2 separate regions of the Homo sapiens genome follow, and region 1 is reported to be linked to region 2. The links are microRNA targets in miRTarBase. Many come from high-throughput screens and were not tested one by one. Region 2 holds a microRNA gene; the other region holds the end of a gene's coding sequence.

Region 1 (3,535 bases), not on the chromosome of region 2:
GTGGTGTGACCATGGCTCACTGCACCCTCAACCTCCTGGGCTCAAAAGGATCTTCCCACTTCAGCCTCCCAAGTAGCTGGGACCATATAAGCATGCCATCAGGCCCAACTAACTTATTTTTGGTAGAGACAGGGTGTATGTTGCCCAGGCTGGTCTCTGACTCCTGGGCTAGAGCGACTCCTCTTGCCTCAGCCTCCCAAAGTGCTGGGATTACAGGTGCGAGCCACTGCACCTGGCCAAAAAGATGATTTTCTTTTTGAAAGTGTATGGTGCCACTACCTGACTCACACTAAGGTGTGGTTTTAATGGTCACTGCTTTTGCACCATCAGTGCAAAAGTCAACACAGTGAAAAGGGCAGTAACTTCAGTGTAGGAAAATACATTTGACTCATAGGCCCCTTGGAAAGACCCAGGACCCCGAGGGATCCATGGAGCAGACTTTGAAAACCAGTTTTAATGTACATAAACCATTTAGAGCAGTGATAGGGCACACACATTTATATTTTTACTACCTTGTCGTGTTTTCCCCACTTTTCCTGCCCTTCAACACTTTCTCGGCCATTTGCCTTTGGTCCCCACTTTTCTGGTGCTTTTAGATGACCCCATTCTGCCAAGACTGCCTGCAAGGAACACCTAGGTTGGAGAAACTTCTCCATGCTTACAAATTACTGATTAGTCAGTTACTACCGTGTCACCTTCCTCTGGCCACACCCCCCAACCCTCAATCTGTTGGAGCTGTTTCACCTAGAGAAAGAAAATGAGAGTCAAGAAATTCAGTCCAATGTAACAGAGAGATGGGCCTCTTAGCCCTCCCTGTGACATTTGTGCCTCACAGCGGCTGCTTGCAGAGTTGACCCTCATCTGAATTCAACCAACCTCAGGTTGAGAACATTCAGAGAAAAAAATTGCATCTGTACTGAACATGTAGATTTTTTCTTGTCATTACTCCCTAAATACAGTATGACACTTACATATCATTTATATTAGATATTATGAATAATAGAGATGATTTAAAGTATACAGGAGGATGTATGTTATATGCAAATACCACGATTTTTATCAGGGACTTGAGCGTCCATGAAATCTGGCACCTACAGGACATCCTGGAACTGCCCCCACATAGAAATTGAGTAGGCTGAAATTAAAAACAGGACATTTAACAAACCTCCAATGAATCTAGCAGGTGTAGAAATCGGGAACCAGCAGTAATACATGGGGACTTACATGGGAATCTAGCCTTTGGGTCAAGCACCCTAAGTTGCTTTTGCTCCACATGGGGAAGGAGAGGGTGTGGCCAAAGTACCAGCAAAATAAAACTTGAGTGATCTGGAACGTGAAAAATAAAAGACATCACGTGGAAGAGGTTTATTACAAATAAATGAAACAAAAATCAAAGGCTTGTGAAACATCTCTAAGTCTTCCTGTTCATTGACCAGTTTCTCAATCACAAAAAACAGGAACGTCTGTGAGGTTCAATTTTGGAAAGGGGGATTGGTTTAGTGGCTCTTCTGATACAACCACAGACCCCTCGGATAAGACTGTGGTCCAAAGAAGGCTGCTGTATGTTCTCTGTAGGCTAGACTCAGTCCTTGTAAATAAACTCAGTTTAAAGCTTTCAATACTCAACTGCATAGTTCCATATAAACATGAAAATTAGGAAGATTGCTATTAGCACACATTCCTAAATCCACAGGAGTTATTTAGCAAAACATCCAATGCATGAATGTAGAGAAAACACAATGACCCAAAAGTTAAGACTGGTGAATCTCCAGGTTCACATGAGACGGTAACCCAAATTCATCACTTAACCAAATTTAGACAAGAGTCACCATTTCCTAATTCTAGGAAATCTGACTAGTTAAGGTGGCATAACTAGTGATAAAGTTCATCATGAGCTTTATCATCACAATGCTAAGAAACATTATTTTAGAAAATCTAGAGAATCATTAACAAGCAAATAACAGAGTAGGGGATGAGCTGGGCCACTCTGGGGTCAGACTGCCTGGGATTGACCTGGCCCTACTACTTGCTGGTGGTGAGATGCTGGCCAATTATGAGTACTCACCTGTAAGATGTGAGCAGTAAGAAAGTGTATCTGCCTCACTGGGTTGTCAGAACAGACAATCCCGGTAGAGTTCTCGGAGCGTCTTGGCCCATCACTGTTAGCTAGTTAATACTTTAGTAAGTACAATTAATTTCAGTCACTCTATCTGAACATGGTAACTGCAAGATTTCTCCCTTATTTCCTGTAATTTACTTTAACCTCCACTTCACTGTGTCCCTCTGATAGGGAAACAAGTGGGTTCTGAACTGCCCTAAGCCTGTGCTGGTGGCCAGCTCTGCACATGCTGGTCCTGATTCTGTGTATGAGCTGTGTTCAGGGTGGGGCCGGGGCCAGAGGAAAGCAAAGGCTCACATGGGTCTCCATCAGCCCTAAACAACACGCCAGGTTAGGCTGTGAGCAACCTAGTAACAGCACTTAAGGCATCCCATAATTCTGTGGTGGACCCTCTACAATCAAATGGCCCACCCATTTAGATAGGAAGAGGATCAAGCCCATATTCCTCTCAATATGAAAGTGCATCTTGAGAGCTCCTGTTTAAGCTGTTAAAATAGTCCCTACAGCTTATTTTGAGAAAAAAAAATCCACCCAAACCCCTTCAATTAAGGCAGCATTTAATTACTGTTACAATAAACGTTTCTTAAACCCGAAGAGAAGATAAAGGTTGTTTAAACAGATTCTTTTAATACAATGAATACAAAAGCAGTTGAGATGGTACCCCCACGATTACACAGCTTTGAACAAGTGAAACTATGGTTACCAAACAGCTATTTTTATTATAGCATCTACAGTGTCTGGAAAAGGATGTAACAATAAATAACTGTAGATGCATCACGAGACATCCATTTACTTAATCACAGAAGTGGATCTTGCTACATAGTTTTCTCAATGTCTTCATTCTTCAGATTCTCCAGGCTTACGAATGTCATCAATCTTCAAAATCATTCTAACCATTTGTGTTGCAAGAGATATCTGTTGCTTTTTGCCAATCAAGGTTTCTATGACATGCTGTTGCTTCATATCTGAAAAATACAAGGACACTGATTATCCTAAAATAGCATACAATAAACTATCAATAACCAACTCTTTCTGATTTAGGGAATCACAGTAAGACTTAAGAAATACAAACTCCTGGAAGCCAAGCAGGAAGCCACTAATTTCAGTTATATTTCATTTTCAGATGAATGTAATTTCATTACTTCCAAGGACACTCTGGAACTCGCACCTGGTAAAGAGAGCTGTTGGGAGGGCACTGTCTTCAATGACTAGCTACAGGGTGACATTTTTCAGGAACATCTTATCCCACAAAGTATCCATACCCTAACTTAGGAAATCTAAAGTAAGTCCATCTGACCACAGCTGAAATGTAAGATATTTCCAAGAAAGATCTAGAAATGCTAATTTTTTTTTTGGAGACAGGTGTCACCCAGGCTGGAATACAACAGTGCGATCTCAGCTCACTGGAACCTCTGC
Region 2 (3,000 bases):
CCTCATTGACTTGCCATCTCTCCACCTTTACCATGAATATTAACCAAATTTCTGTTTTCAGCCTCTTATTTTCTCCCATTTTCTCTCATTACTCTTCCCAGGATGTCTGACCCATTCACATGGCTTTGCTGCTTACCTCTGTCTGTCTATAGTTCTGGTCCTGCCCTTTTCTCAAGTCCCAAACCTACATTTTAAATTGCTGGCTGGGCATCATGTTTATCCAGAAAGCAAGCTGTTACATTCTCTTCTATGCCAGCCCTTCCTCCTCACTTCCTCCAGGTTGGAATAGTGCCTTTATCTTCGGCACCATCTTGGAGTCATGCTTCACTCCTTGTGCCTGCCCCCCACCCTCCATCCCACGCTCTTTTCCCATCTGTCTGGCATGACCAGCTTAGTCAATCTTCCTGAAATGTCACTGGAAAAATAACTCCCCTGGTCAAAACAACTTTCAGTGGGGTTTTGTCACCTTTTATGTTTGGGTAAAGGCTTCCACAGTAACATTTAGGCCTCATTTCATTATGGCCTGAGATTGTCTTCTCATCCCTTTCACACACAGTAGCTAAACTAACCCTCCTGTCAGCCCAGAATGCCTCCTTCTTCATTTGGGGAGATCTTACCCATCTTTCTCGGCTTCTTTCACGCACTGGGTCTTCTGTGACTTCACAGCTGACTAGCCTTCACCCTCTGAGTCTCCAAAGCTCTTTGTTCTTCTTGTCAGGCTTACCCTATGCTGCTATAGATGGCTGCAACCCGTGTTCAATTCAGTTCGATAAACACTGTTGAGCACCTACAGTAGCTGAGCCTGGTGCTAGTCACTGGGGCAAAGATGACTAAAACACTTTTCCTGCCCTCGAGGAGCTCACAGTCTAGTATGTCTCATCCCCTACTAGACTGAAGCTCCTTGAGGACAGGGATGGTCATACTCACCTCGGTGTTGCCCAAACCTCCAGGCCAGTAGCCTAGCTAGCTAGATACAGGAAGAGTCACCCAGGCACTGAATTCAAGGCTTAGAACATATGAGTGATTCTTAATACTAAGGAATGCTCCACTGAGGTAAATTATCTCCAAAAAGTATCCAATACATATTTTTAGAACTACATATAATTACTTTAAATAGGTACCTGTAGTATAATTTATGGATATCTTCTTATATACTACTAGCACAGGTAGTTGAGCATTCATTCATTCTGCATTGTTCTGTTTTAGAAATGGTGTTTAACTTTGCGTTTTGAACATATACAATTAGGCTACCAAATAGGCCACCATTTTATATTATAAAATGTCACTATATAATATAATTGCTTACTTGGACATTTGCATATAACAGTGTATCACAATAACTAAATAGGTTATTAATTTTTTTCAAAATTTTTATTATTTCCAAGATTTTAACAAAGAAATAATAAGTTTGGATAGCCCTTTGGTCGTTAAAATTATGGTAGTTAAAAATGTTTCCCAAATCCCATTCTTCTTCTTGACCTCGAAAGAATTCTCCTTCCCTACCTTGAAAGAATATTTGCAAGTAGACTCAAATTACTGTGGGATTCCCCTCATCTTTAACTGGAGTGTATGCGTGTGTATTTTATTTTGTTGAGGCGGGGTCTCCTCTGTTGCCCAGGCTAGAGTGCGGTGGCACCATCTCTGCTGCCTGCAACCTCCACCTCCCATGCTCAAGTGATTCTCCCACCTTAGCCTCCTGAGTAGCTGGGACTACAGGCATGCACACCACACCACCACACCCAGCTAATTTTTTGTATTTTTGGTAGAGATGGGGTTTTGCCATGTTGCCCAGGCTGGTCTCAAACTCCTGAGCTCAAGCAATCCACCCACCTTGGCCTTTCAAAGTACTGAGATTACAGGCATGAGCCACCATGCCCAGCCTTGTATATTTGTTTTTGACTATATTAGTTGAGAAGTGATTTTTGGTATGGAACATGTTGGGCAAACTCATAGGAAAATCACCTTGGTCCTACTTTGATGAGGTGATGTCTGTGACTCAAGGAACCTGTCCTTCCTACATCCTGTTTACTTATTCATAGGTATGAATTCATTGAGAAGTAGAATGAGATTAACCTGCCAGTGGCCTATTATCAAGTATAAAAAATTCCTCAATAGGAATACTTTCAATTGATCAACAGTGAAATTTTCTTATAATGCGTACTCTAGCATTTTTGTGCTTTATGACTGTCAGGTTATAAGAGCGCACCAAATATTTTTTGAGTGAAAAATCATTTAGCCGGGCGCAGTGGCTCAAGCCTGTAATCCCAGCAGTTTGGGAGGCCGAGGCAGGTGGATCACCTGAGGTCAGGAGCTCGAGACAAACCTGGCCAACATGGTGAAACCCCGTCTCTACTAAAAATACAAAAATTAGCCCGGCGTGGTGGCAGGCACCTGTAATCCCAGGTATTCAAGAGGCTGAGGCAAGAGAGTCGCTTGAACCTGGGGAGGCAGAGGTTGCAGTGAGCCGGTATTGCGCCATTGCACTCCAGCCCGGGAGACAAGAGTGAGACTTTGTCTCAAAAAAAAAAGGGGGGGGGGGGTTTAATTTAATTCCTGGTTACTTCAGTTAATTCTTTGTTAGGTACTATGACAGGGAAACCATAATAAACAGCTTTATTATTTGCCTTTTTGCAGGTATGTTCAAAAATAATATGTCCCAACAGTACTCTTCTTGACTAAGGTGTTGGTACCACTATTTTAAAAAAGAACATCAGCTTTATCTCATATTAGAAAAATATTTTAGGTTAATGTTAAAATTCTTAAATATATTTTAGGCAAATTAGGGCAGTAAACACAATTATCACTTTAAAATTTTGTGTTATGATTTTTGTATATTTTAAAACTTTTTATTGATGTTTAATAAACACACCAAGAAGTGACAGCTTACTGGATTTCCACCAGTTGGATACAGTCTGTCACCAGCAACCAAAATGAAAATACTACCAGCACCCCAGAAATCTTCCACATGCCCCTTTCTAATCACTGTTCACCCTCCAAGGG

What was found. The annotated mature microRNA hsa-miR-151a-5p reads UCGAGGAGCUCACAGUCUAGU and lies in region 2 at 851-871, shown strand. An mRNA with a match to its seed (bases 2 to 7 or 8) in the 3' UTR can be bound and repressed. Matches are read on the target gene's strand: a 7mer-m8 pairs with bases 2 to 8, a 7mer-A1 pairs with bases 2 to 7 and ends in A, and an 8mer does both.
Region 1: the mRNA of CCT5 is a reported target of hsa-miR-151a-5p. The part of its 3' UTR that is shown has no 7-base or 8-base seed match.

What each region holds. Positions count from the first base shown.
Region 1 is chr5:10,264,205-10,267,739 of GRCh38, reverse strand. CCT5 (chaperonin containing TCP1 subunit 5) reads right to left here. Exons shown (of 11, transcript NM_012073.5): 11 at 1,351-3,084. The coding sequence ends at 2,957. Among named protein-coding and RNA genes, the nearest start is that of CCT5, 16 kb to the right of the region's middle.
Region 2 is chr8:140,730,494-140,733,493 of GRCh38, reverse strand. It overlaps MIR151A (microRNA 151a), which reads left to right and starts at 841; the gene lies at 841-930. The region is part of intron 25 of PTK2 (protein tyrosine kinase 2); the gene reads left to right.